Linked DNA regions of Homo sapiens. The gene in region 1 interacts genetically with each later gene. Each region holds a gene or a part of one and is shown in the gene's direction. Other genes may lie near its edges. The genes, in order: GRM2, ERBB4, SSTR5, AKT2, LARS2 and AMHR2.

Evidence for each region.
Region 2: changes in GRM2 (region 1) and ERBB4 together harm fitness less than expected from each alone (positive genetic interaction), as found in Homo sapiens cells (one large-scale study listed by BioGRID).
Region 3: changes in GRM2 (region 1) and SSTR5 together harm fitness more than expected from each alone (negative genetic interaction), as found in Homo sapiens cells (one large-scale study listed by BioGRID).
Region 4: changes in GRM2 (region 1) and AKT2 together harm fitness less than expected from each alone (positive genetic interaction), as found in Homo sapiens cells (one large-scale study listed by BioGRID).
Region 5: changes in GRM2 (region 1) and LARS2 together harm fitness more than expected from each alone (negative genetic interaction), as found in Homo sapiens cells (one large-scale study listed by BioGRID).
Region 6: changes in GRM2 (region 1) and AMHR2 together harm fitness less than expected from each alone (positive genetic interaction), as found in Homo sapiens cells (one large-scale study listed by BioGRID).

What each region holds. Positions count from the first base shown.
Region 1 is NC_000003.12:51,713,557-51,718,597, forward strand, and holds part of GRM2 (metabotropic glutamate receptor 2 isoform a precursor), read left to right. Parts: intron 1-407; coding exon of another isoform or gene 408-427; exon of another isoform or gene 428-468; coding exon of another isoform or gene 469-565; exon of another isoform or gene 566-1,505; coding exon 1,506-2,581; intron 2,582-4,080; coding exon 4,081-4,261; intron 4,262-4,482; coding exon 4,483-4,556; 3' UTR 4,557-5,041. UniProt on the Homo sapiens protein: Dimeric G protein-coupled receptor which is activated by the excitatory neurotransmitter L-glutamate. Plays critical roles in modulating synaptic transmission and neuronal excitability.
Region 2 is NC_000002.12:211,380,049-211,385,089, reverse strand, and holds part of ERBB4 (receptor tyrosine-protein kinase erbB-4 isoform JM-a/CYT-1 precursor), read left to right. Parts: intron 1-1,029; coding exon 1,030-1,475; 3' UTR 1,476-5,041. UniProt on the Homo sapiens protein: Tyrosine-protein kinase that plays an essential role as cell surface receptor for neuregulins and EGF family members and regulates development of the heart, the central nervous system and the mammary gland, gene transcription, cell proliferation, differentiation, migration and apoptosis.
Region 3 is NC_000016.10:1,070,480-1,076,172, forward strand, and holds the start of SSTR5 (somatostatin receptor type 5), read left to right. Parts: upstream 1-2,267; 5' UTR 2,268-2,343; intron 2,344-5,693.
Region 4 is NC_000019.10:40,235,377-40,240,417, reverse strand, and holds part of AKT2 (RAC-beta serine/threonine-protein kinase), read left to right. Parts: intron 1-307; coding exon 308-373; intron 374-1,444; coding exon 1,445-1,513; intron 1,514-2,326; coding exon 2,327-2,449; intron 2,450-4,032; coding exon 4,033-4,161; intron 4,162-4,313; coding exon 4,314-4,528; intron 4,529-5,041. UniProt on the Homo sapiens protein: Serine/threonine kinase closely related to AKT1 and AKT3. All 3 enzymes, AKT1, AKT2 and AKT3, are collectively known as AKT kinase.
Region 5 is NC_000003.12:45,394,319-45,399,359, forward strand, and holds part of LARS2 (leucine--tRNA ligase, mitochondrial), read left to right. Parts: intron 1-114; 5' UTR 115-135; coding exon 136-369; intron 370-5,041.
Region 6 is NC_000012.12:53,426,080-53,429,513, forward strand, and holds part of AMHR2 (anti-Muellerian hormone type-2 receptor isoform 1 precursor), read left to right. Parts: intron 1-1,797; coding exon of another isoform or gene 1,798-1,854; intron 1,855-2,816; coding exon 2,817-2,931; intron 2,932-3,373; coding exon 3,374-3,434. UniProt on the Homo sapiens protein: On ligand binding, forms a receptor complex consisting of two type II and two type I transmembrane serine/threonine kinases.

The sequences.
Region 1 (5,041 bases):
TCCTCCTTGGGCCTTGCCCACTGTCTTCTGTCTCCTTATCTTGCCAAAGGTGGAGACCAGGAGACCTCAAGCCCATTCTCAGGCAGCACCAAGAGTTAGAATCAGTCTGGCTTGAGGGTGAGCATCAGGATGACGCTCTATATTCACGGAAAATGTCTTTCTGTCTTTCTTTTTTCTTTTCTTTCTTTTTTCTTTCTTTCTTTCTTTCTTTCTTTTCTTAGATGGGGTCTCACTATATTTTGTAGGCTGGAGTGCAGTGGTTATTCACAGGCACAATACAGCCTCCAACTCCTGGGCTCAAGCGATCCTTCTGCCTCAGTCTCCAGAGTAGCTAGGATGACAGGCATGTGGCACTGCTCCTAGCTTCAGGGAAAATTTCTATTCCTAATCTTGATTTTCCACTCAAGGTGACCTGAAAGTCTCCTGAAATCAAAAGTTATTTTAATAAGAGTGCCAGCTTTAAGAGAAATGACTGCTGCAGATCATCACTATGCTTCAGGAAGAATCACCGTGGGAACAGTGGGAGACAAAGCTTGGAAGCCCTGGCCCAGGGTTAAGATGAAGAGTACTTCCAATAGAACTGACATTCAGAGTTAGCTACAATCAGTGTAGGGGTTAGGGTTGGAATCTGGGGTCCGATTTGGTTGATGTTAGAGCAAGGCTAAATTCAGCATGTTTGGCTTGGGTGGAATTTATGGTAGGGCTAGAGTTGGATTTTGAGAACTTTTAGGCTGAGTAGAAAGAGTAGGTGCTTGAGGGGACCTGGGTTTGAATCTAGGCTGCACTATTCACTCATGGGGCCTTAAGCATGTCTTCTGCTTTCTTGAACCCTGATTTCTCACTGGGGCCAGGGATGGCTGTAAATCCTGGCTAGAGCCTGGCTGGGAGATGTGAGGTTTACAGGGGATGAAGTGGGGGTGGAGAGAGGAAGTGATTTTCCAGCCACTGACCACATTCTGGTGAATGGCAGTGGTTGCAGGTGACCAGTGAGGTTGGGATTCAGTTTGCACCAGGATGACTGTTAGGACTAGGGGTGCTGGAGCTGGGGTTGTTGTTAGGATTAGTGGGGACAGGATTGGAGCTGAGACTGGGTTTAGCCTTAGCATTGAGTTTGGGGAGAGGGCTGTAGTGTATGTTTCGATGAAGTTGGGATTTGGAGCCTGGGTTGGAAAGTGTTGGATAGTACTAAAGTTGAATTTGGGGAGTCATGGTTGGGGATTGATGTGGGCATTAGGTTTTTGGAGATGTCTGGGCTTTAAGGCTGGGATTACATTTGGCATTTAGGGTTGGGGTTTGATGTTGGAGTTTAGGAGTAAGACTTTGTTGTCATCTCTCATTTAGAAAAATGATTGGGGTCAAGGCAGGATTTAGTATTGGGTTAAGGATTGGAAGGGCTAATGGTGGTCTTAGCTCTGGCATTTGGGTTCCATGTTAGGGTGAATGTTGAGGTCACATCAGGGTAACACACTAGTCCAACCTTCTCTTCCTTCCCTCCCCCATCCTAGCCCCCTTTCGCCCAGCTGACACCCACAATGAGGTCCGCTTTGACCGCTTTGGTGATGGTATTGGCCGCTACAACATCTTCACCTATCTGCGTGCAGGCAGTGGGCGCTATCGCTACCAGAAGGTGGGCTACTGGGCAGAAGGCTTGACTCTGGACACCAGCCTCATCCCATGGGCCTCACCCTCAGCCGGCCCCCTGCCCGCCTCTCGCTGCAGTGAGCCCTGCCTCCAGAATGAGGTGAAGAGTGTGCAGCCGGGCGAAGTCTGCTGCTGGCTCTGCATTCCGTGCCAGCCCTATGAGTACCGATTGGACGAATTCACTTGCGCTGATTGTGGCCTGGGCTACTGGCCCAATGCCAGCCTGACTGGCTGCTTCGAACTGCCCCAGGAGTACATCCGCTGGGGCGATGCCTGGGCTGTGGGACCTGTCACCATCGCCTGCCTCGGTGCCCTGGCCACCCTCTTTGTGCTGGGTGTCTTTGTGCGGCACAATGCCACACCAGTGGTCAAGGCCTCAGGTCGGGAGCTCTGCTACATCCTGCTGGGTGGTGTCTTCCTCTGCTACTGCATGACCTTCATCTTCATTGCCAAGCCATCCACGGCAGTGTGTACCTTACGGCGTCTTGGTTTGGGCACTGCCTTCTCTGTCTGCTACTCAGCCCTGCTCACCAAGACCAACCGCATTGCACGCATCTTCGGTGGGGCCCGGGAGGGTGCCCAGCGGCCACGCTTCATCAGTCCTGCCTCACAGGTGGCCATCTGCCTGGCACTTATCTCGGGCCAGCTGCTCATCGTGGTCGCCTGGCTGGTGGTGGAGGCACCGGGCACAGGCAAGGAGACAGCCCCCGAACGGCGGGAGGTGGTGACACTGCGCTGCAACCACCGCGATGCAAGTATGTTGGGCTCGCTGGCCTACAATGTGCTCCTCATCGCGCTCTGCACGCTTTATGCCTTCAAGACTCGCAAGTGCCCCGAAAACTTCAACGAGGCCAAGTTCATTGGCTTCACCATGTACACCACCTGCATCATCTGGCTGGCATTCCTGCCCATCTTCTATGTCACCTCCAGTGACTACCGGGTGAGCTACCTGCCACAGAGGTCGGGGGAGATGGGACACCAGACCCTCTGTTTCCTGGTATCTTATTTAATCTACTGGTAGCTCTGGGGTTCCAAGAGGATAATGCCCACTCAGGGGACCACAGCTTGTGTGGATCCCAAGGGGAAGGTGGGAGGGCTGAATAGGACCTAGGGAAATGGCCAGGGAGGTGGGGAACTCGAGTTAGAGAGAGCTGAGATTTCAGGACTTGAATGTCATCCCCTATCCTGGAAGGTGATGGGGGTGCAGAAATATGTTCAAATGGACAGGGTTCTGCCCTGCTCCACTGAGGGGTCATCTGCAGAAGGGGTTGAGAGATGAAGCCAGGGAAGGCAGGAAAGATGAAGCAAGGTGGGTAGGGGAGGAGATCCAGGGTATAGAGTTGAGAAAAGCTAAAGCAGGTGAAAATTGTTCCCCAGTTGGTGGCTTCTGAGCAAATTTGGTTCCAACTGGCACTGTGTCTCAATGGGTCTCCCCAGCTCCAAGGGGCAATGGCTGCTTCAGATAGGGTGGTCAGGGAAGCCCTCTCTGAGGAGGTGACAGATGAGCTATGTTCTGAGTAAGAAGATTATCTTGGTTAATCTTCATAACTTGAGTAAGCTCCATGGCTCTCCCGTTTTACAGATGAAGAAACAGAGACTCAGGGAGGTTCAATCCCTTGCCCAAGGTCACTCAGCTTGGGAGTGCAGAGCAGGGTCTGAACTGCAGAAAAATTGAGGCGAAAGCCCCGGCAAAGGCCCCTTCCCCAGGACAGAGGTGTGGTGGCACAGTGCTGGGGGCCAGGGACCGCTGGGCTTGGCTGCTCTGCTTGCACCTGCTGGGCCACCTGCTTGGGTGGTAGAGGCCAGGGCTGGGGAGGGATTCTGCTCTGACTCAGCCTGCATTTGCATATGATTTGCATTTGCATGCCAATCACAGGCAGCTAAGGACTCACCTGAGACACACACCGTACCCACACATGCATGCACACACACACACACACTTGTACACACAGACATAGCCACATGCATGCATGCACACACACATATCCCACATACACACACTCGCTGGCACACACACATATATCTTCCTGACAAATGAATCCATACCCATGCACCCTACACTCACGCACACATACACTCACGCAGACACCTGCAGAAATTCACCACCCCACATACATGCACTTACACAGATATACACACACACCTACATGCACGCACTCCATTCCTGCAGCCCCCAGATGCACACACCCCTGTGTATACATGCCCCCCTGCATGTTCTCCCCTTCAGCTGGAACTCTTGTCACCCTGGGAAAATGGTCTGGGTCTGATGCTGGGACTGTGCCCAATTTTCCTAGCAATGCTTTGGGATCCGGCAAATGGACCACAGCCCAGTGTTGGATGCTTAGTCTCCCCCACTCCCTCCCCCACAGATCAGGCAGGGGGTCCTGGGGTCAGGCCCAGGTCTTGACCTGTGCTTGTTCACCCACTCACCCACCGCAGGTACAGACCACCACCATGTGCGTGTCAGTCAGCCTCAGCGGCTCCGTGGTGCTTGGCTGCCTCTTTGCGCCCAAGCTGCACATCATCCTCTTCCAGCCGCAGAAGAACGTGGTTAGCCACCGGGCACCCACCAGCCGCTTTGGCAGTGCTGCTGCCAGGGCCAGCTCCAGCCTTGGCCAAGGTCAGTGTCCTAAGCAGCCCTCTCTGCCTGTTCCCCTCTCCCTGTCCAGCTCCTTGGGTTGCTGAGATCTCTTGTCTGGGGGTGAGGTGCCCCCCAAATGACACTGGCAGGAGAGGACAGGAGAGGGGAGGGGAGGCTTCCCTCACAGCCCTGCTTCCCCACTGCCTGCCCTCCATGGAGGACCTCGGGATTGGCCCCAACCTCTGGCTTCCTTTTCTTAGGGTCTGGCTCCCAGTTTGTCCCCACTGTTTGCAATGGCCGTGAGGTGGTGGACTCGACAACGTCATCGCTTTGAAGACCCCATACTCCCGCCCTGACACAGCTGCTCCTGGGAACCTAGTGCAGACCCACGTCCAGGGCCAGGAGGAAGTTGGCTGGAGCACTGCAATAATTTATTACCCACCCTATGTCTGCCCCCAAAGTCACTTACCCACCTCCTTACCCCAGCTCTTCAGACTCAGAAGTCAGGAGCCTTGGCCAGGAGCCTCTGCAGTGGCCACTAACTGCCCTTGTAGCTGTGTTTCCTCCTGGCCAGGCCCAGGGCTCAGAGAGGAGCAAGCCAGGGTTCACTCTGCCCTGGACCCGGGTGGCTGAGGACGGCAGGCCCCAGTCCTAACCAGCAAAGGTGCTTCCAGCCCAGCCCCTCCCCCCAACTAGGGCCTTTTTTATTTTTTATATAAGTTACTCTGGGATGGGGAGGGTGGTTATTGTGGGGGCTGCCCCTCCCCCTGCACAGTAGTTTGTCCTGTGGTTTATTTTGTATTACCTGTAAATAAAGTG
Region 2 (5,041 bases), on another chromosome or scaffold:
CCTCTCAACAAAGAATTGTGCCCTCTTCATGCCTTGAATTCAAAATAGGAATAGCTTAGGGCTTTGTGTATATAGTAAAAGAGAGGACTGTCAGAGGACTTACAATACATGCGTGTTTATGTCTATGTGCAGTCTATATTATAGACATAGATGTGGAATTAAGCTTCAGGAGAATGGTGATAATTATTAGCACCTTTTAGGCCAATACCTATACTAGATGGATTTATTAGATTGATCCGTACAAAATAGGCACTAATTGACTGGTTTCAATATACAAAATTTATTTTATTTTATATAATTCAAGCTGATAGTTTGCTACTTTGTGATTATGATTGGTCAATGGAAATATTATAATTATACTTTACTATTAAGTAGAAGTATATGTAATGTCAAGCAGGTCAACTAGAGGCATGTTAGCTATCTGTTAGATTTGCTTTTTTAGTTGAATTTTTTTCCTTTGATGCTTTCTTTTCCATGTGTAAAACCTTTTTCAGAAGCATCTCCAATTAAATCCTTGTTACCAGTATAGGCAATCATAGCAAACCATAGAGACTAAAAAACATGATTTCTTCACTCCATCTATTCATCTTGGCATGGAACTCAGCTATAGATTCTTGTTTTTTCAATATCCTTTATAGAAGTTAAGTTGTCTGTATATTTAAAGACTATTTAATCCTAATAGGTAGTCTTATTTCCTAATATAAATAACTTTTAGAAAACAAAAACATTGAAACAACCAGCCCCATATGCAGAAGAGACAAATGCAATTAGAAAGAAAGAAAAATTTAGGAGATAGAAATTCTGATTCTGGCCTCGTTGGCTTCTTGTTTTATTATAAACATTTTTGACCCACTTACTCTTTTTTTCATAAGACAATGGTGATCCACAAATACTTGTTGTGAGAAATCATGAAAACAAATCTGTGGGTTTTTTTGTTCTAGACAAAGAAGCTAACCATTATGTATAACCTTGGTCTGATTAATATTTTCCAGAAACTAGAGGTTAGCTGATATTTTTTTATTCCTTTAGAATACCTGAATCCAGTGGAGGAGAACCCTTTTGTTTCTCGGAGAAAAAATGGAGACCTTCAAGCATTGGATAATCCCGAATATCACAATGCATCCAATGGTCCACCCAAGGCCGAGGATGAGTATGTGAATGAGCCACTGTACCTCAACACCTTTGCCAACACCTTGGGAAAAGCTGAGTACCTGAAGAACAACATACTGTCAATGCCAGAGAAGGCCAAGAAAGCGTTTGACAACCCTGACTACTGGAACCACAGCCTGCCACCTCGGAGCACCCTTCAGCACCCAGACTACCTGCAGGAGTACAGCACAAAATATTTTTATAAACAGAATGGGCGGATCCGGCCTATTGTGGCAGAGAATCCTGAATACCTCTCTGAGTTCTCCCTGAAGCCAGGCACTGTGCTGCCGCCTCCACCTTACAGACACCGGAATACTGTGGTGTAAGCTCAGTTGTGGTTTTTTAGGTGGAGAGACACACCTGCTCCAATTTCCCCACCCCCCTCTCTTTCTCTGGTGGTCTTCCTTCTACCCCAAGGCCAGTAGTTTTGACACTTCCCAGTGGAAGATACAGAGATGCAATGATAGTTATGTGCTTACCTAACTTGAACATTAGAGGGAAAGACTGAAAGAGAAAGATAGGAGGAACCACAATGTTTCTTCATTTCTCTGCATGGGTTGGTCAGGAGAATGAAACAGCTAGAGAAGGACCAGAAAATGTAAGGCAATGCTGCCTACTATCAAACTAGCTGTCACTTTTTTTCTTTTTCTTTTTCTTTCTTTGTTTCTTTCTTCCTCTTCTTTTTTTTTTTTTTTTTTAAAGCAGATGGTTGAAACACCCATGCTATCTGTTCCTATCTGCAGGAACTGATGTGTGCATATTTAGCATCCCTGGAAATCATAATAAAGTTTCCATTAGAACAAAAGAATAACATTTTCTATAACATATGATGGTGTCTGAAATTGAGAATCCAGTTTCTTTCCCCAGCAGTTTCTGTCCTAGCAAGTAAGAATGGCCAACTCAACTTTCATAATTTAAAAATCTCCATTAAAGTTATAACTAGTAATTATGTTTTCAACACTTTTTGGTTTTTTTCATTTTGTTTTGCTCTGACCGATTCCTTTATATTTGCTCCCCTATTTTTGGCTTTAATTTCTAATTGCAAAGATGTTTACATCAAAGCTTCTTCACAGAATTTAAGCAAGAAATATTTTAATATAGTGAAATGGCCACTACTTTAAGTATACAATCTTTAAAATAAGAAAGGGAGGCTAATATTTTTCATGCTATCAAATTATCTTCACCCTCATCCTTTACATTTTTCAACATTTTTTTTTCTCCATAAATGACACTACTTGATAGGCCGTTGGTTGTCTGAAGAGTAGAAGGGAAACTAAGAGACAGTTCTCTGTGGTTCAGGAAAACTACTGATACTTTCAGGGGTGGCCCAATGAGGGAATCCATTGAACTGGAAGAAACACACTGGATTGGGTATGTCTACCTGGCAGATACTCAGAAATGTAGTTTGCACTTAAGCTGTAATTTTATTTGTTCTTTTTCTGAACTCCATTTTGGATTTTGAATCAAGCAATATGGAAGCAACCAGCAAATTAACTAATTTAAGTACATTTTTAAAAAAAGAGCTAAGATAAAGACTGTGGAAATGCCAAACCAAGCAAATTAGGAACCTTGCAACGGTATCCAGGGACTATGATGAGAGGCCAGCACATTATCTTCATATGTCACCTTTGCTACGCAAGGAAATTTGTTCAGTTCGTATACTTCGTAAGAAGGAATGCGAGTAAGGATTGGCTTGAATTCCATGGAATTTCTAGTATGAGACTATTTATATGAAGTAGAAGGTAACTCTTTGCACATAAATTGGTATAATAAAAAGAAAAACACAAACATTCAAAGCTTAGGGATAGGTCCTTGGGTCAAAAGTTGTAAATAAATGTGAAACATCTTCTCATGCAATTATTTTATTATCCAACACACTAATCTTTTGATACTTTATATAATTCCCTTTCTTCATATACTGCATCCAGTACTAGAACCATCATTATTATGTATCATTTTGAAAGAATACCTGATGAGATGAAGGATGAGAACAAATGACAGAGATGAGTCTCCAAGTAAAGGGGGCCTCACATCAATAATTAGGAAACTTAGATATAAGTCGCCCTTTTCTGAAAATTCTACCCCAAGTCATTTAGATTTTTAAAAAATATTTCTAATGTTAAAATATTGGGACCAAATTAGAATCAATAGTATAAGATTAATTAATTAGAGTAAAAATATCTATTAAGGCAGAGAAAGTTTAGAGAAAAAAATCCAAAGAAATTTGTGTTTCTTCCTATTCTGAACAAGTAAATCCATCCATCCATCCATCCAAACCTCCTTTATCTAACTGTGTCTACTAAAAGCACCATGTTTTGTGGGGAACACTCAGATAAATGGAATATCATCCTCAACTTCAAAATTCTATGATCTAGGAGATTTAATTAAAATGACATTTTAATTTTTCTATGCGTTCCAACAATCAGATTGCATAGTCTCTTTTGTGAATAGCTGTCATATAATCAGTTGTACTGTAAGATATCTCCTTTAAACTCATTTGGGATATAAGTTAAACATCCTTCAAATTGTTGATGTTGACAAACAGGATAATTTCAATAATATTATTCAAACATAAACTGGTCTAGGAGAATATTGCATCACTGACTAATTAGCCTATCTAGAGTCTAACTTCACCATTAAACCAAAAGCAGATGGTGGTCCTTGGCCAAGAATATTGGAGACATTGGAGTTGGTTTTTTTCTAAGCTATAAGAAGTGAGGCGAGCTGAAAAAGTATGGTAGAGCAGGAGAAGGGTTTGTGAGATTCCTTCTAGTGAAGTTCACCCTCAAACTTTTCAGGGGTAAAGACACAGAGTGATTCAGGGGCCACAATCTAATAGCTCAGGGCTCTCCTATCCATTCAGAGAAGTCTCTAGGAAAAGGGATCTCATATCAGTACTTATGAAAAATTGAATATAAGCCTCCCTTTCTAAATAAATCTGCATCGAGTCATCACAGCCCTCTTTTTGGATACTATACCTTGATTTTTTTTTTCTGATTTACAATATGCATATGGTTTCTACTGGGCTATAGAAAGCAGAATCACTCATTTTGGAGAAGGAAAAAATGAATAGTTAAAACAAACTTTTAACTGTTAAGGTAACAGAAATGTATTTAGTGAATGTCTCTTTCCTCCTAAGAACACAAGACTTCTACATGTTGGGTAATACCTAGAGATGCATGTAGGAATAATCCAAAATGACCCAAATGCTTTATAATAGCACCACTTTATAATTCTTTTGAATGATTTCTGTAGTATATAATTGACTTCAGTTGTTTGAGTGTTTTTTGTTTTATTTTTGTCCCCCCTGGGAAAACATATTTCAGCATGTATAAGAGGGAGAAAAAAAGTTTCATTCCTTCCAGAGAATAACTTATTTAGTCCAGTAGGGTAGAATTTTAAAATGTCAGTTAAAGTCTTCAAAGTGCTTGGGGGGATATCAGATTCCAGAGGCCAATTGTAGCAATTGAAATTTGCAGAATCAATTATGTAAATCTGAGACAAATTAGTATTAAAATTACACGGAGTATATTTTTTAAATCACCCAACTTTGTAGATTATACCTATTTTGGGCAGGTATGGAAAAATTTTGCAGTTAAATGATTGCCTAAAGAAAGTGGTAAACAGGTGAGGAAAGATGGCCTCTGATCTAGGATAGATCCAGAACCACAAAGCATCTGCACCACAAAAGGTGTTAGACTACCAAGCAGCTCCTGGTTTTCTGCATAGTATTAGTAGCACAGCTTAGGATGAGAATCCTTTCTCCAGTAACATTCTTAAAATAGCATGAAAAACAACGCAAAACTCAAATTTCTATTAAAACACACAAACTAAAATCAAGTGATTCTTTTTTGTAGATTAGGGAGAAGGACTGAATATCTAATTTAAGAGA
Region 3 (5,693 bases), on another chromosome or scaffold:
GGTGGGGTGCACCAGGCAGGGGGGCAGCCAGGGCAAACGCCTGATGCTCAGAGGGTGACAGTGGGCAGCGGGGCCCTTTGGAGGAGCGGAGGGAGGGCCCTGTTGGCTGCAGGGCAGAGTGCCCCACACTCCTCCTGGCCGCCACCCCCAGGGCCCAGCCCAGTCTGGGGACTAAGACGAGAGGCCTCTGGGGTGTTCCAGGTGAGCTGGAGTCAGCCCCTGTTGCTTTTGAATAATTACAGGGGAGTCAGCCCAGTGACCAAGCCTCTGCCTGGTGGGGGAGGGGCACGGGCTTTGTGTCCGGGAGCTGCTGTCCTCAGCCTCAGGAGAGGGGGTGTCACGGGCCGTGGGACAGGTCACAGTTAGGGTGGGGTCCCTGGAGAGGGGTCTGAGGACCGTCCCTGCGGAGTCCATCCAGCCACCATCGGTTGCCATGGCTACTGGCAGCCCCTAATCCTCACGGTGCTGGGTTTGACCTCTGCAGCGTCCCAGGCGGGCATGACCTCATTTGATCCTCCTGGGGTGGGTGGGACTGAGGCCAGGGGACTCCTGCCCAGAACTCAGGGTGGCCGATGTGGGGAGGGGCACTGTGGGGCCGACAGGTCCCCTCTCTGGCCATCAGGCCCCCAGGAGGGCCCAGGTGCTTGGAGGTGGGGGGTGTCCCAGCTTGATGTTGGGGATGTGAGTAGATCCAGCGCCCACCCACCCGCAGGGCTGAGCTCCCACTGGGCGCTGGGCCGTGACTCGCACACCGGACCCTGCACCCCTGGGGCACCCAGTGATTCCAGAACAGTGGGACCCCAGAGGCTTCTCAGGGAGCCCCAGAACATGACAGATGGGGGCCCAGGTGCGAGGCAGTGGGAGCTGGAGGAACACAGCCAGGGGCTGAGGCGAGAACCATGAGGATGGTGGGCAGAGGCTGAGGGGAGGGGCAGCAGATGGAGATGGGGGAGGCGTTAGGGGTCACAAAGGGGGTTCTCAGAGGATCTGCCTTGGGAAGCCACTGCTGTGGGAGGGTGGGAGGGATACAGCCCAGGTACCTCCAGAGAGGATGGAAAGGCTTATGGGGCGGATTCTGGGCAGGGGACCTGGGACCAGCCTGCAGCCTCCCCTGAGGGCCTGGCCATGGCCGCAGGCTGGGGAGGAGGGGAGGGGACCTTGGGGCCAGGTGCCATGGTCCTCTAAGCACTCTTGCTCGATGGTAAACATAACACGCGCTGCTTGCAGAACATGTGGAAACACTGAAACGCTTAAAGGAGAGAACATGGTCCCGGTACCCGGCCTTCAAGGGAGCTGCTGGCGCCTGTTCAACAGGAGCCGACCCCACCTGTGAACAGACGGCAGGCGGCTGCTCCCATGTCCCCTCAGAGAGGGGCCCTCCGAGTTCTGCTGTCACCTGGGGGCGCCTCACTTCATTCAGCCAGTGGCGGGGCTCCCTGGGTCGGCACAGAGTCAGGGGAGGGGGCTGGGGGACCTCCTGGTGGGAAAATGTCCGGTGATCCCCAGCCTCCGCGCTCAGCGGGAGGAGGCGCTCGGTCCCGCTTCTTACAACCAGCGGCGCTCACGGCGGGCCCGGGGATCAGCATCCCGGGAGCTTCTCAGGAATGCAGATTCCCAGGCCCTCACTGCCTGGGGAGTCGGGGGCCCAGCTCGAGGCCCAGGAATCTGCTTTGAGGACCCAGGTGACTCTGCTGCCTGCCTGAGAACCCCACCTTAGGTGAGGGACTAAGGTGTACCCATGGATTCATTTCAGGGGAAATAAAAAGAACAACTTAGCAGGTAGTCTATGCTTAAATATGTGTAGGATCCACAAATAAGGCATGGATAAAACCCGAGTGGAGTGTCCTGGAAATCCCACGACCACGGACCCCCCTCGCTGGGGCTGCCTGCCGCCCCCACCAGCCTCCACACACCCACTTATCTCCACAACCCCAGCCCACCCCTCAGAGACGTCTGCAGAGCCCCTGACCCTCTCCCCTTGAACAAGGACCCTCCACCCTCTTCAGACTCTCGACGAGGGACCCCCTGGACTCCTGCTGGCGGCAGGACCCCCACCCCAAGCTGGGGTCTACCACAGAGCGGACAGCAAGAAAATAGGGTGGGGGCGCAGGCGATCATGGGGTCACTGCCAGTGGGACCAGGGCTGTGGGCGAGTGCGCCAGGGTTCCCGGAGGCCAGACGTGGGACCCGGGAGTCGAGCAGGTGAAGCGGCCCTGCCCCGCCCCCACCAGGCACTGCCCCGCCCCCGCCCCGCCCCGCCCCCTCCCAGCCGGCGCCCGGGAGCCCGGAGCCAGTGCCGCGCGGACATCGGGGCTCCCCCGTTCAGAGGGCGCCGCCGCCCAGGTGAGTGCCGCCCGCCCCTGTCCCCCTCCCGCGCGGGCACCCCCTGCCCTCGGCTGTTATCCCCACTGGGGGTTTCACCCTGTGTGCGCAGCCCCGGCCCGGGGTCCCGCCGTGCGCCCCCAGCCCGCTGCACGCACTGTCCCCCACGCGCCCTCCGCACACCCGCGGGGCTCTCCTGCCGCCGCCGGGGGTCCCTCCCCTCCCGTTCCATCCACTCCCAGCAGCTCCATCCCTCCCATCTCCTGCCCCCACCCCACAACTCACCATCTGCAGGCACCCCGTGTGCCAGGGTCAGCCCAGAAGCCACAGGGGACCCAGATGGCCCCACTCTGCCCACCGCGCCGCTCCCGGCCTCTCCTCCCCACGACGGGGGCCACAGCGGGGCTGGCTCCTGGAGCTGGAGGAGGGTGGGTAAGGCTGGGGAGGGCTCGGAGCCTGGGGCTGGGGGCCGGAAGTGGCACTCAGGCCACAGGGAACCACTGGGCCACGGAAGGAGGGTCCCAGGGTGCCCGTGGCACCCAGCGAGGGGAGGATCCGCAATTTGGGTGCCGGGGGAGGCAACTGGTGCCTGCGCGCAGCTGGGTCGGTGAGCTCCTGGAAGGCAGCAGGCAGAGGCCAGCACCCAGGGGCCCTGTGACCTGGCACTCACAGATGGGTTCCCTGAAACCCAAGACTGGGGAGGCTGGGGTGCCACCCCGCCCGCTGCGAACAGAGCCCCCTCCTGTCCAAGGCACCGCGTGTACCTGGAATCCTCCTGGCGTCTTCACCCTCTCCAGAATAGAGAACACGCCACTGGGGTGTGTGCCCTTGGCCCTCCTCCCCCACCCCAGACCCACCCACGTGCCCGACCCGCTGTCCCCAGCCTGCCAGCCTGCCTGGGGCCCCCTCAAGGGCAAGAGAGCGGAGTGCATGGTGACAGAAGTTGGGGATGGTTCCAGTGAGGCTGAGCCCTTTCTGAAGGCAGTGATTCTGGACTATGTAGGTGGGGACTGCCAGAGCCTCCTGGGCAGAAACTGGTCAACAGCACCAAGGACAGGCGCCTGGCGTTGATTTCCAGAGCAAGACCCAGCGAGGCTGTCAGGAGGTGCCTGGTGTGGAGGGTGCCCCGAGAAGCGTTCGCGGAGCACGCGGGACCCCTGCTGCTGCTGCTCCAGGCTGGCCCACACCTGCCTCAGTTTCCCTCTCCTGGGGAGGGTATGTGCCCCTGGCCACAGGCTGCCGCAGGGACAGGTGGCGTGTATGTGGGGGACAGGCAGGGGTGCCATTGGCTGCACTCACAGAGCTGGACCCCAAGGGGGCAGTGGCCTGCCACCAGGCCACCCTTACGACAGAGGAAACAGGTCAGAACGCTTGTCCTGGGAGCACAGGCCTGGCTCCGGGGCCTTTGGAGGGGCTGGGGCCTGTAGTCTTAGCTAGGGTGTCCCCCGACGTTTGCCCCTGCCCAGCACACAATGGAGGAGCCCGGGTGGGTCTGCAGCCTCTCCAGGGTGCGGCGTGGGCCCCGGCCGTGTGAGCCGCTGCCTCCCCGAGCAGCAGGTTCCGCAGCCCCTCCAAGCTGCAGCCGCATCGCTGCCCCCCATGAAGGAGCCGACTCCCCGACCTCGTGCTGGGTTAGCCTGGAAGGAGTTGGCAGGGTGCAGGCTAGACCTCCACCCAGTCATGGAGGACTTGGTGCTGAGGCCCCGCCTCTGGTCCCAGGCCCCTGTGAAGACTGCCCCCTTCTCCGAGGAGCCCAGCGGCCTCCTGGATGCTGGGGAAATGCTGGGCTGCTTAGGGCAGCTTGTGGGAGCAATCGTTGAGCGCCCAGTGTATGCCAGCCCCGCTGTGGTCCCCGTCGTGGGGAGGTGAGGCCGGGAGCGGTGCTGTGGGCAGACTGGGGCCATCTGGGTCCCCTGTGGCTTCTGGGCTGACCCTGGCACACCGGGCACCTGCAGATGGTGAGTTGTGGGGTGGGGGCAGGAGATGGGAGGGATGGATGCTGCTGGGAGTGGATGCACGCAGCACCCTGCACACAGAAGCTCACTCAGTTTCATCAGCTCAGCAACCCTACAGTTTGCAGGAGTTGCCTATCCCAGAAGCTGGGCTCAGAGAAGCCCGTGACTTACCCCAGACCACGCAGCCCGTGTGGGGAGTGGTCAGGGGCCGGGGTCTCTCCCAGTGCCATGTCAGGCTGAGCAGATCCCTTCGTGGCCGAGGGCTCGGGATCAGAAAGCTCCTACTGCTGGCTCCCCCTCCAGTGAATCCCCCACCCACAAGGGACAGGGCCACCGGGACAATTCCCCGTGAGTGCGTAATTTTATGATTCAGAGGATACTGCTTCCAAATAACGGCTCTTGCAGAATTATGTTCCAAGAGTCAGGTACAGCAATAATGGTCTATTTGTGTCCTTTGCTGCTCTGAAGTCTAACTCCGGAGGTGGAGCACTGGGGGCCGCAGAGCCGGGGACCTGGCAGCCTGTGGAGCCCCTCGCTGGGCTCTGGGCATGGGAGTGGCCTTGGAGGAACCCTGAGGCTCCTCTGAAGCTAAGAAGCTACAAAGACAGGGAGGCTGAGGCAGGAGGATCACTTGAGCACAGGTCGAGGCTGCAGTGAGCTGTGATCACAGCACCACTTCGATCCAGCTCGGGCAACAGAGCAAGACCCCATCTCGAAAACAAAAAATCAAACAGGCATTTGGGAACCACACGTGCTGGGGACCCAGGGCCTGTGTTGGAGATGGACCGGAGCCCGACAGCCGCCCTCTCCCTGTCCCACCATCGGTGGCTCCTCTGTCCCCTCCACCTGGCCTCCTTGCTACGGAGGAATGGGCCGAAAGTGCCTCCCCAGGGAGGGTGCAGCTCAGAGGCCTCTGCACCTGGGCCGCCATCCCACCCACCTGGACTCCCACGCAGCCCGCGGGCTGTCTCCAGACCACTGTCCTTCCGGAATGCATGCTCCACAGGCAGCCAGAGGGAGCCGCAAACATGGCGTGTTGGATTTCCATGCTGGTCCCTGGGGAGCGGAGAGCCACAGGCCTCTTCCCCTCCCTCTCCCTCTCCCTCCCTCCCTCTCTCCCCCTACCCTGTCTCTCTCTCTCCCCCCCCACTCTCTCTCCCTCCCTCTCTCCCCCCACCCTGTCTTTCTCTCTCCCTCCCCACCTCCCCCTCTCTCTCCCTCCCCCTCCTCCCCCTCCCTCTCCCCCCACCTTTTCTCTCTCCCTCCCCACCTCCCCCTCCCTCTCCCTCCCCCCTCACCTCCCCTCCCTTTCCCTCCCTCTCTCCCTCTCTCCTCCCCTCCCCCTCCCTCTCCCTCCCTCTCTCCCTCTCTCCTCCCCGCCTCCCCATCCCTCTCCCTCTCCCTCCTCTCTCTCTC
Region 4 (5,041 bases), on another chromosome or scaffold:
GGGCTCTCGTGATGTCTGTTTGTCTCCCTTGCAGGGACGTCACAGGTGTCTTGTCCCTAGCAGCCTGGTCCTTACATTGTGACATTCCTGCTGACTTTTCACCTGTGGCTTTGAGAGCCACTGATGATCCTCGTCTGGGTCTGCTATTTGCTGAGGGTTTGCAGGCTTTCACTTTTCACTCCTGTGATTTTCTGCATTTATGGCTGGGAATGGAATTGCATTTCACAAGGCCTTGCTCCCCTTCGTCGGGGCGGAGTGGGCAGGTGTGGTGTTGCCCACCAGCCCCTCACCCGCAGTCTGTCTGCAGGATGAAGTCGCTCACACAGTCACCGAGAGCCGGGTCCTCCAGAACACCAGGCACCCGTTCCTCACTGTGAGTTGCCCTCCCCTTCCCAGACAGTGTGAGGCCAGCCTTTGGACAGAGCTCAGAGAGAGAGCCCTAATCTTCTGGTACAAAGCACAGTCTTGGGGTAGGCCAGGCGGGCAGGGCAAGGTGTTGCTGCGCCCTGCCAAGTCATCCGAACCAAGACATGTGGTGGGGGTGAGCAGGCTCGGGGAGTGGGAGGGTGACAGCTTCTTCATAGATGGTGGCTTCATGTAAGCATTTGAACTAACTGAAGATATCACATTATTTGCTGGCTGCTGTCTCTATGAGTTAGGAGCACTTAGCCCAGCTGGTTGAAGTGGAAACATTATTTTTTTTGTTTTTGTTTTCAGATATGCTCATAGAAGCAGATGTGTTAGCATTGTGTTGTCTGTCAGCCTGGACTGAGTAGATGCCTGTTTGGGCTGCAGTCTCCATCAAGGCCAGTGGCCACCAGTTAAATGGACTAGATTGAGGATGGCTTATGTATCATTTCTTTATCTCAGTTGCTGTCCAGGTATCCTATTAAGCCACAGTACTTTTTCAAATAAAATCTTATGAGGTACCTCAGTGCAGAAAACAGAATAGTTGAGTTGTCATGAGCTGAAGGACCCCCTGGTGGGAGTCTCTGAGGAACTCTCTGTAGATCTCCTTAGTGCAGTGGAGAACTACTGTTTGTTGACTGACAGCCTGTCCATCCTGTCATTGAAGTTGGCTCCCAAGCCTTTGCCACTCCCAGCCACAGCAGACATCACTTGTGTGTGTAAGTTGAACACATTTTACTGTAAAAACAAGAGCCATGGTTGCTCAGAACAGCTCTAGTTCTCCCTTGGCTGTGCCTGATGGAGGCAGAGGACAAGATGGTTCAGCATGTAACCCTTTCCTACCGCAGAGCCATGCCTTCACTTAATGCCCCAAAAGGTGCAGCCGGTATGTGAACCCCATATGGCTGACTCCTGGGGGCCCCAGCCAGGGCAGGGTGTGTGTGTGCAGAATAAGCAGGGCCAGGGCCCTGCCCTGGCATGGCTCAGCAGAGCCCTCCTCCCTCCCACCTCCCACCCTGCTGCCTTCATCCCCCAGGCGCTGAAGTATGCCTTCCAGACCCACGACCGCCTGTGCTTTGTGATGGAGTATGCCAACGGGGGTGAGGTGAGCCGCGGCTGCCTTGACTTTGCCCTCTGGGGCCTCCTTCTTTAGGGTGGGGCGGGATGGAGAGGAGCTGTGGGTGAGATGGAAGGGTGGAGGGAAATTTCAGTGTCATCTAGTGCCCCTCTCCCTTGAGGCAGGCGGCTTCGTCTCCATTTTGGGGGGGCAGTCACTGAGGCTCAGAGAGGTTAAGTGGCTTGCCCAAGTTTACACAGCTAGTGAGTGGGTGGGTCAGGTCCAAACCAGTCCAGAGAGGTGTGGAGAGGGCTGTGGGGCGATAGCACTGGGAAGGATGGTCTTAAAGGCCCCAGAGAAAGCCCCCAAGGGTTAAAACCTAGCAGCCCTCCGTTCCCGTGTCCTCTCGAAGTGAATTCCCGCAGCCGCTCAGCTTCCCCTTACAGAGTCGCCTCACTTTTGTCACCCACTCCTTGCCTCGCGCCTTCTCTGTGCAGTGGTTGGCACACCTGCTTTGGGATGCGTGGTTTGCTCATCTGTCTGATCTGGGCTTGCCCATGGCCTATTGTTACTTGGTCATGACGTGTGCTTCTTTTTGCCTCCATGCCATCCTCCCTCCTGTCTCGGATGTCTCTCCCATACCCTCTCATGGGTGCCTCCTGGCAGACCCTCGCCCTTCCCCCCAGCTCTGTGTCACTTATGAGCTTCTGCGCTCTGCCTTGATTGGTCCCTCTAGCTGTCACTTGCTGGTTCATGATACAGGTGTCACCACATCACTGCGCTGGGGCAGGGGGCTGGGAAGGTGAGGGCAGGTGGGTGGGCTGGGGCCTGACCTCCTCTCCCCACCCCTTCCTCCTGCAGCTGTTCTTCCACCTGTCCCGGGAGCGTGTCTTCACAGAGGAGCGGGCCCGGTTTTATGGTGCAGAGATTGTCTCGGCTCTTGAGTACTTGCACTCGCGGGACGTGGTATACCGCGACATCAAGGTTAGTGGCAGGGTGTGCGCCAGGCTGACCTGTGGCATGCACACCACATGGGACTCACACTGGGGAAGTTGGGCTGAGCTTCTGCCCTCATTCGCCAGGCTCCCCACCAAGGTCCAGGGTGGTGGCTGCCCTCATTCGCCAGGCTCCCCACCAAGGTCCAGGGTGGTGGCTGCCCTCATTCACCAGGCTCCCCACCAAGGTCCAGGGTGGTGGCTCTGTGGCAAGTTGCCCCAAGTAGGGACCTTCCCAAGCCTCCCATGAGCGCTCCTAGGCCACTAGCGGAGTGTCAACTGCCACAATACCTACTTTATTTGTATTTATTTATTTATTTATTTTTGAGGAGTCTTACTCTGTTGAGTGCAGTGGTGTGATCTCGGCTCGCTGCAACCTCTGCCTCCCGGGTTCAAGCGATTGTCCTGCCTCAGCCTCCCGAATAGGTGGGATTACAGGTGCCCGCCACCATGCCCAGCTAATTTTTGTATTTTTAGTAGAGACGGGGTTTCATCATATTGGCCAGGCTGGTCTCAAACTCCTGACCTTGTGATCCACCCACCTCAGCCTCCCAAAGTGCTTGGATTACAGGCATGAGCCCCCGCGCCCGGCCAATTTTAGAAGATAGTTTGGCAGTGTCCACCAAAGCTGAGCACCAGTCATCTGCCCTAGCTGTGTGCACAGGAGAAGTGGGGACACACACTCACCTTAGAAAGTGTCCCCCTCACTCAGCAGCAGGACTTACTCTAGCCCCAACTGGAACAACCCAAGTATCCACTGTGAGAGGAACAGTCAGATCCACTGTGGAGTGTTCTCACAGTGGGACGCCACACAGCAGTTAGGAATGAGCTACAGCTACACACGACAGTGTGGACGCGTCTCATAGGCTAATGTCGAGGGAAAGCCGCACAGAGGAGGTGAGTCCACAGTTCACAGGTGTGTCTGTGTGCAGTGGTACAGATGGGAAGTAGAGGTTAATTCTTGTGGGGGATGGTCAGTAACCGGGAGGGGCACACAGGGCCTTCCAGGGGGAGATGCCACCTCAGCCTCGCAAGTAGCTGGGACTATAGGTGTGTGCCACCATGCCTGGCTAATTTTTTTTTTCATATTAAGAAATATGGAGATGGGGTCTCGCTGTGTTGCCCAGGCTGGTCTCAAACTCATGGGTTCAAGCAATCCTGCCACCTAAGTCCCCCAAATTGCTGGGATTACAGGTGTGAGCCACTTTGCCTGGCTGCATATTTCATAATTAAAGGACAGAAAGTCTAGAAAAAAAGAATAGAAGAAAGCTAGTGCCCCCACGTTCGAAATAAGAACCACAGTTCACAATGGGGACGGTGGGTGGACAGGGCCTGGCTCTCGGCTCTCCCTGCCCAGCTGTTCCCAGGTACCATGGGGGTGGGCCAGAGGGTGAGGAGGGTTGGATCTGGCCTCTCTCTGAGCCTCAGAGGGTGAGGCTGTGTGTGCTGGGCCCAGCCTGGCATGGGAGGGTTGATGTCCAGGAGCCCCGGGCATCTTTCCCTGGAAGGAAAGGCTGGGGTGGCAGGAAGCCTTGGGAGCATGCACCTGAGATCCGTTGACTTTTCCAACAGCTGGAAAACCTCATGCTGGACAAAGATGGCCACATCAAGATCACTGACTTTGGCCTCTGCAAAGAGGGCATCAGTGACGGGGCCACCATGAAAACCTTCTGTGGGACCCCGGAGTACCTGGCGCCTGAGGTGTCTGGGGTTGGTGGGGGTAGGAACGTGTGAGGCCAAGGGTAGGGGGATCCCCCAGACCTGTGTGTTTCCAGCCCAGATGCCCTGAGGGCAGGACTGTGATGCCAGCCTCAGGGCCACGGGCCCAGCCCTCATTTCTCCTCCATCCTCAGGTGCTGGAGGACAATGACTATGGCCGGGCCGTGGACTGGTGGGGGCTGGGTGTGGTCATGTACGAGATGATGTGCGGCCGCCTGCCCTTCTACAACCAGGACCACGAGCGCCTCTTCGAGCTCATCCTCATGGAAGAGATCCGCTTCCCGCGCACGCTCAGCCCCGAGGCCAAGTCCCTGCTTGCTGGGCTGCTTAAGAAGGACCCCAAGCAGAGGTGAGGGCTGGCGTCGGCCCCACCCAGCCCAGCGCCAGCTGCTGCCACTGTCCCTGCGGCCTGGAGGGGGCAGCGTCCACAAGGGTGCTCGCTTGTAGGGTCGCAGTGTGTCGTCCCCACACAGCCCCTGAAAACGTCCACAGTGGCACTTAGGGAGTGCTTCCCCCAGGGCAGGCCCATCCTTGACACTGCCTTATTTTATGGGGACACTGAGGAACAGGGCATCCCCTGGGCCTGGCTGGGGCCACCAAACCATATGTGGCAGAGCCAGGATAGGAACGGAGCCTGCCCTACTAACTCCCTTTCTGGACTCAGGGTAAGGCCAGGCAGTGAGGACACGTGGGTCCGGGTTGCTGACTCCCTGGCTCTGACCCTGGGCACGTGAGCTCCCTCCCTGAGCCTCGGTTTCCTCCTCTGTGAAGTGGTTTGTGGTCAAGACAGAATCATTAAGGGCCATACAGGGCCTGCCTGCTCCGAAAGCCCGTCTGCCCGAACCCAGCTGCTCCGGGAGGC
Region 5 (5,041 bases), 6.3 Mb from region 1:
ATTAAAAGTAAGAGGAAAGCACAGGGCCAGAACACTGGACTGTGCCAAATGGAAAGATAAGCTCTGGGGAGGGTTTGAGGCAGCTCATAGTGTGCTTTCTGCCCTCTTTTTCAGGGCCTTCTCACCTTCTGAAGAATGGCTTCTGTTTGGCAGAGATTGGGTTTTTATGCCTCTCTTCTGAAAAGACAGCTAAATGGTGGGCCAGATGTCATCAAGTGGGAAAGGAGAGTAATTCCCGGATGTACCAGAAGCATCTACAGTGCCACGGGAAAGTGGACAAAAGAGTATACATTGCAGACAAGAAAGGATGTTGAGAAATGGTGGCATCAACGAATAAAAGAACAGGCCTCCAAAATTTCAGAAGCTGATGTGAGTATTCTGAGAGATTCTAAGAGGGTAGAGAAGAGGGGTTGAAGGTTTGGACCCTGGGGTTAGACTACCTGGTTCAAATAAGATATTAAATATGTGACCTTGAACCAAATTGTTGAATTTCTCTGTGCTTCAATTCTCTTATCTGAGATGGAGAGTGATCATAATAGTGCCCACCTGCACTATTGGGAGGGGTAAATGGATTGGGAGGCATAAATGAGGTGATACAAAGGTAGTGTTTACAAGAGTTTCCAATGTGGTGGATGCACACATAGTAATATTGCGCACGAGGTGTATGACAGACAGCAGCAAACCAGGTGTTCTAGAGCAACATTTACTGGGGAAGCTCATCAAAATAGGAGCTCTACCAGATGATGGGTCCTTTGTGGTCCATTGCATGGTGGGGCAGCACACAGGGATCTGGCAGGGTCATATCTGAGACTCCAGGAGAGGCACCTGGGCTCCTCGCTGGCTACATGTTCTGAGAAGTAACTGCCCCTTCCCTGGCAATCGTAGCCTCCAACTCTGTTCTGCTGCCTTAGCATCATGGTTTGGGGCACACCAGCCCTTTCACTGTTGTGAACTGGGGTAGGGTCTAACCTTGAGGTAGCAGCTACATGAGTTAGTGGACCCTTGGCTTCTGCACCAGGTACACCAGCTCGGCACTCTACCTGAATTAATGGTGGAAGCATAATACTTGGCTGCAGCCAGTTTCCACAGAGTGCTCTCTGTTCCTTTTCTGGGAGGCCAGCTTGCTGGGAATCAGTCTGGAACGTGTTAACCCTTACCTCTTGATACTGGTCAAAATGACAGCTGGGAGATGTGATTGTTACATGAAATGTTTGAATCTGATTGGAGTTTTAAATTCTGATCATCTCTTTGTAGTAGTTATAGTCAAATAATACAAACCCTCTATGTTTAATAAAGAGATTAGGCCCAAGGCAAGCAGCTGAATAAGTACAGCTGCACAAGACCACACCTCTCTAGACTTGCCTTTTCCCCATCTCCTGATTCGGTCAACACATTCATTCTTTCTGTGAGATTGGTGGTTATGAAAAATGAGTAAGGGGAGGAGAGCTATTTGTGTTAAACTGAAAGATGATTTTGGGCAATGGTTAGAAAGAAAAATTGCTATTGAAAAAGATGTAGTGTGTAACAAGTAAAATGAAATGAAAAAAAGGGAAGGTTTGAATGTAATACATAATTTTACAATGAAAGCTTGACTTCTACCTTGTTAGGAAGTGAAAAGCCCTTGTGTCAACATCATCAGACTAATGTAACTTAATAGATTTTGAAAACAAACTCTTAAGGAGCAGTTTAATTCTGAGTGAGGACAGTAAAATTAGCTTTTTTTTCCCTTTTGGTTTAGATAATCATTTATTGACTTCCAAATGTTTTGATGTTGTAGCTTACTGATTTTGTGACATCTCATTCTTCTTAAGCATACAGTTTTTTAAAATATCAAATGGATCAAAATAAATTGTTTTAGCAATTGGGGAGATAGCATAAGGGGCATTGTGTGTGATCCCCTGGCAGCCCCCTATCAGGGTTTGAATCAAGGAATGGCAAAGCAGAGTGAGCACTCAGTGAGTGAGCCAGAGCCTGGGCTGCAATGCTGGCTCTGCCCCAGGAAACCTGTGTGATCCAGGCCACATCATTTAATGTTTTGGATTCTGGGCTCCTTGCATTGTTTATCTCACAGAATTGTTTTGAAAATCAAATGAGAAAATGTGTGACAAAATGCATTTTACAAACTGAAGTGGTACATAAATAAAAGATACACAAAGATCAGAACGTGGTGTGTCTATCAGGACCTGAGACTATGACGGAATGCTCATGGATTTTGAAGCATTTATAATCGATCTCACTCTGGTATCAGATTCACTTGAAATCCACTCACATAAGTTTTTTGAAATGGAATGTCTTGAAATCACCATATTTATCATTTAAAAAATAATTTGCATTTAATGAGCATTTAACCATGTGCCAGGCACTGTCTTTCAATTGATTATCTCATTTAATCCTGAAACAACCCAGCGGGTAGGTATTATTATCCTCATTTTTGGAGTAAGAAAACTGAGGCTCAGAAAAAGGTTTAGGTAATTTGCCAAGACATGGCAGAGCCAGGATTCAAAATCAAATGTGTGTTTGATTCCTGAGCTCATGCTTTTCCACACAGAAACCTTCTTTTGTCTCACCTTTGATTTACAGTTAGCAAACTGATCCCAGAAGGCAAAAGAATTTGCCCAAGGCCTCACAGCTAGTGACAAAGCTAGGACCAGAACTGGGGCTCCGGATTCCTATTGAGGTGCTCCTTTTACTCTGTCACCCTCTAGGCTCAGCCACAGCTTCAGAGCGTGATCTATAAAGAGGCAGAAGTCATCTTTCTTCTAAAGTCAGAAGCTGACAAAAATAATAGGACCCACTTATAAAAGCCATCCTTTCCCTATCATTTAAATCTTAATCTCTTTTAAAGGCTTAAATTCTTATACTTTTATATAATTATGAAAATTTCCCTTTCAATCAGATTCTTGCTCAATTATAACAGAAACTCCCATCATTCCTTCTCTCTTTTCCACCCCCAGATGATAGAACTCATTTCATTGTCACAGAGGAAAATGACTTAATTCATGCAGAAAAGCAAAAGGCAGGGACAGGCAATAAGCTGAATACCTTTTCTGTAATAAACAGAAATCTTCATGAATATTAAAGACTTTAGAAAACAATACTTTTCTATGTATCTTTTATGAACTCAGATTTGGATTTTGGCTTAGCTAGTATATAATTATTCATTTGATTTTGCTATTAATTTAATCTTTATTGAACAAATGTAAAACAAGAGATGCTAGTAAAGAAATTACAGGTGGAAAATGTTTGGGGCAAGATTGGTAAATTAAATACATAACAAACATTAGTATAATAAAAATAATTTTATGTAAAAACTTTCAAATGAAAAACTAGAAACAGCTTAGATCAAGGATTTTACTGTTTTCCTAGCTCCCAAAGAACTCTTAACAGCTATTTTCCCATATTCCTAAAAATTTCTGAAGAATAAGCCATAAGCCTAATTCATTGTAAGGAGTAAGGCATGAATTGAGTGGATAGTTTTCTTCTGATTCTGCACTAAGTAAAAGAATGGGGTCTTGTACCTCCTTGGACGACTTGCTCATAAGCTGAGAAGGTTATCTGCCACTCACTTTCTTAAGGACAGTTATTAAGTTCCTGAGTTCCCACCAACCCCTGAATCTCAGGTCCTCTCTCAGATTTCTGTGGTTTTCCTAAGAGTTATAAATCTGCAGTTTCTAATTAAAGTGTCTGACCAATGTGTTGCTTTCCATCCTGTTTGTATAAATCCATTGTAGTTGTCATTTCAGCAGTTCCAGATGATTTTCTAATTTGTGTATGATCCAGATTTCTTAATTGTTCTCTTTTTCCCATCTCTTCCTTCAGGCAGCTTAACACTCCTTGGTAATTTCTAGAGGATGGGCAGCACAAAGAAAAGTTCTACTCTAGTTTTTGTGGGTTTCTTTTTGCCACGTGCTAATGGTTCCGTTAAAGGTTTGTTTAACTTCTTTGCTGAAAGAAGTTTACGAACTCCTTGGCAAGAATCTGATTTCTGGTTTCTTCTGCTCTACTGATTATATTTGGTTTATGTGTATTATCAGTCATGCGAACATTCAGCAAACAATATTTAAAAACCCCATCCCACATATGTACATAAAAGAAGGGTTATGAATATTCTGTTTCGTGTTTGTTTGCATTACTTCAGGGGAAGCAAATTCTTAAAGAACTGGAGTAAAGTTCTAGCAAGGGAATAAGGCCAGGAAGAAAAAACAGAAGGCAGAAATAAATAAAAGCAGAAGTTCTGACCCTTAGTGACGAAACAGAATCAGTTACCCAGTTACCTGTTGCTCTTCCTTTCTCTCCAGCCCCTCCACCCTTGACCCTGTCATGAGATGATTTAAACTTGGGTGTGGGGAACCCTCCTATTACTTGGGTAGGATTTGTGAAGTTTGCTGGGTAAAAAGTGCTCCATAGGGGCCAGTTATCAGGCTTTTGGAGCACAAAGGCCAACGAACATTTATCCAACATTTTATGAAACTCCTGCTGGCACTGGGGGCAGACGTGGAGAAAGAGGTGACTAAAGCACAGTTCTTGCCCTTGAACAGTAGGTCCCCCCATGAACAGTAGGTCCCCCCAGTAGGAGTTAATTCAAGGACTACCATCTTTGTTTGCCTTATCCATTCATGTGCACACTCATGACGACATTCATCATTTTACCAGGGGAAGAATTAAGATGCCAGAAGTCAGTGATCCAATAAGGACTCATTGGCCTGTGTTCCTTCTGTTCAGATACATGTACAGTTGTCTATGTTTCTCATGATGAAGCTGCTTCTTTGGAAGCTGGAGAGTTATATAACCCTGGTCTGAGGCTGCTTATTTATCATCCCTGGAGAACAACAACCTTCTCCCTTTTTAAAAGGATCTTCTCATTACCTTCCCATTTCAACATTTTTGTTGAAAGATAGGCTCTCAATACAATGGGGAAACTCAGGACCCAAATTGGTACTTTAGGATCCTGTTATTACTGCTAAACCTACGTCAGAATGCAGCTATAGAGAATTTAGGAAGAGACTCCATTTTTAGAGATGTTACATCTATGTGATTCAAC
Region 6 (3,434 bases), on another chromosome or scaffold:
CAGGACTTTGGGAGGCCAAGGTGGGTGGATCGCTTAAGCCCAGGAGCTCAAGACCAGCCTAGGCAATATGAGGAAACCCCATCACTGCAAAATTACAAAAATTAGCTCAGCATGGCAGTGCACACCTGTAGTCCCAGCTACTCAGGAGGCTGAGGTGGAAAGATCGCTTGAGCTTAGGAGGTTGAGGCTGCAGTGAGCCGTGAGCATCCCACTGCACTCCAGCCTGGGAGACAGAGCGAGACCATGTGAAAAAATAGTAACAGGCTGGGCACGGTGGCAGACGCCTGTAATCCCAGCACTTTGGGAGGCCAAGGTGTGAGGATCACTTGAACCCAGGAATTCAAGAACAGCCTGGGCAACACCGTGAAACCCCACCTCTACAAAAAACAAAAAATTGGCTGGGTGTGATGGCACATGCCTGTGGTCCCAGCTACTTGGGAGGCTGAAGTGGAAGGAGCACCTGAGCCTGGGGAGGTCAAGGCTGGCAGTGAGCCAAGATTGTGCCACTGCACTCCAGCCTAGGTGACAGAGTAAGACCCTGTCTCAAAATAATAATTTTTATTTATCTTTTTTATTACATAAACAATACATGTTTATATATTTTTATTTTATTTTGGTGGGAGGACGGAGTCTTGCTCTGTTGCCCAGGCTGGAGTGCAGTGGCACAAGCTTGGCTCACTGCAACCTCAGCATCCCAGGTTCAAGCGATTCTCCTCCCTCAGCCTCCCCAGTAGCTGGGATTACAGGCGCTTGCCACCACGCCTGGCTAATTTTTGCATTTTTAGTAGAGACGGGGTTTCACCATGTTGGCCAGGCTGGTTTCAAAATCCTGACCTCAAGTGATCCACCCATCTTAGCCCCCCAAAGTGCTGGGATTACAGGTGTGAGACACCGTGCCCAGCCAAAAAAAAAAAAAAAAAAATTGTTAAAGAAATATCTTCAGGCACAGCCCTCCAAACTCATTCGTATTCATTCAACAAATAAGTATGAACTATATGTCAGGCACTATGCTAGAGGCCACAAAAAACACACAGTCCCTCTTTTACAGATTTTATAGACTAGCAGGGGAGACAGAAATGGATCAAGTAAACACGAGTGTCAAATGTCAAGTGTGCTAAGTGCTAGGAGAGAGGGCCAATGAACTATAAGAATAATAAGATGTGACTTGAAGGGGAGAGCAATGAGCAACAAGAAGAGGAAAAGGTAGGCAGAGGCCAGCCACACCAGGCCCTGTGGGCCTGTTAAATATTTGGGGCTTTTTAAGTTTTCATACCATTTCCCATCTGCTTCCTGCTAGGCATTACGCTACCCGCTTTTTATTTTATTTTATTTTATTTTATTTTTTAGACAGAGTCTCATTCTGTTGACTAGGCTAGAGTGCAGTGGCACAATCTTGGCTCACTGCAGCCTCTACCTCCTGGTTTCAAGCAATTCTGCCTCAGCCACCTGAGTAGCTGGGATTAAGGCGTGCCGCCACTACTCCTGGCTAATTTTTGTATTTTTAGTAGAGACGGGATTTCACCCTGTTGGCCAGGCTGGTCTCAAATTCCTGACCTCAAGTGATCTGCCTGCCTCGGCCTCCCAAAGTGCTGGAATTACAGGCGTGAGCCACCCCGCCCGGCCATGCTACACGCTTTAAACACATTTCCAAACTTACCCTTCACAAACACATTATGAGATAGGAATGATTATCCACATGGGGCTCAGAAAAGGAAAGTCATTTGCCCAGAATCTATGTGACTCTAGAGCTGGCTCCTCATCATCGTGTCTATTGCCTCCTGTTTACCCCTCCATCAGGACTGTGTGTGTCTCTGTCCACGTGGAAGAGCTCCCCACAACTCACTTTGCCCTATTGTAAGTAGTTCAACCTCCACCACCTGTTTCAGAGCCCAAATGCAGTGGCTCTTCCCTGAACTTTTTCAGCACCTACAGCTTCTGTACTTCTGAAATCTTGAATGATGGAAAGTCCCTTCTTTGACCATATACCTCCTGGCCCAGCTCAAAAATCACTGTTTTTTTGTTTGTTTAATTTCTCTGACTTCTCCAGGCAGGGTTAGTCATTCTTGCTTTATGCCCCTTGGCACTCGGTTAATTTTCCTATCTTGGGGTTTACTGCATTCTTTATCTCTTACCTTCCCTGAGCCATCTTGGTGCCTGAACACAGTTCGTGGCCACCGAAGGTGCTCGATGACACTTGTTGAATGAGGGGTTCTATTGCTCCCTTCCCTCCAATTCCCACTTGCCCTCCACCTGCTACTCTGTTATCTACTGGCTCTGCCCGTCTATGTGTACACATGCCTGACACCTCAGACAAGGTGACTCATGAAGGATGCCCCTGACTAGCTTGCCCTGCCTCCTCTGTTACTGTCTTTGCCGCATGTCTTCTGAGTCAGTATAAGGTGGTGGTTATTAGTAAGTGATCCTGAGTCAGACTGCTTGGATTCAAGCTCCACTCCTGCCTCACCGACTGACTTCAAGAGAGTTTCCTTAGTTCTGTAAGGAAAAGCTCTTCATCTGTTAAATGGGGGTGTGACAGGAGCACCTACCTTCTAGGGTTTTCACAAGGATTACAGGAGGCCACATCCACTGGGTCTGGACCACAGTAAGTGCCCAGTACCCTTGATCTAGAGTTACTATTTTTCATGTCAATTGATGCACAGTCTTACTCCTCTACCTATTGTCTTGGCCAGCATCCATCAGTGTGTCTGTCTGCTGGGGAGATGCAGGGAGAAGACTGTCAATTGATCTCTGCTCCCTGGGATGGATCAGCCGTCTCCAGCTTTGTGTACCATCCTTTTCTCTCTGCGTTTCCCCAGGGCTCCCTGTGCCACTACTTGACCCAGTACACCAGTGACTGGGGAAGTTCCCTGCGGATGGCACTGTCCCTGGCCCAGGGCCTGGCATTTCTCCATGAGGAGCGCTGGCAGAATGGTGGGTGAGCTGGGCATAGGAAGTCAAGGGAGCCACAGTGCTATGTTTGTGATTCTGCCTTAGTTTGGAGGGGAAAGATTGGGTCAAAAGAGGGAGGAAGAGCCGGGCACGGTGGCTCACGCCTATAATCCCAGCACTTTGGGAGGCCGAGGTGGGCGGATCACAAGGTCAGGAGATCGAGGCCATCCTGGCTAACATGGTGAAACCCTGTCTCTATTAAAAATACAAAATATTAGCCGGGCGTGGTGGCATGTGCCTGTAGTCCCAGCTACTCGGGAGGCTGAGGCAGGAGAATCACTTGAACCCGGGAGGCGGAGGTTGCAGTGAGCCGAGATCGCGACACTGCACTCCAGCCTGGGCGACAGAGCGAGACGCCGACTCAAAAAAAAAAAAAGAGGGAGGAAGAAAATCCATGTTCCTTCAACCTTGGATTCCCCCACAGGCCAATATAAACCAGGTATTGCCCACCGAGATCTGAGCAGCCAGAATGTGCTCATTCGGGA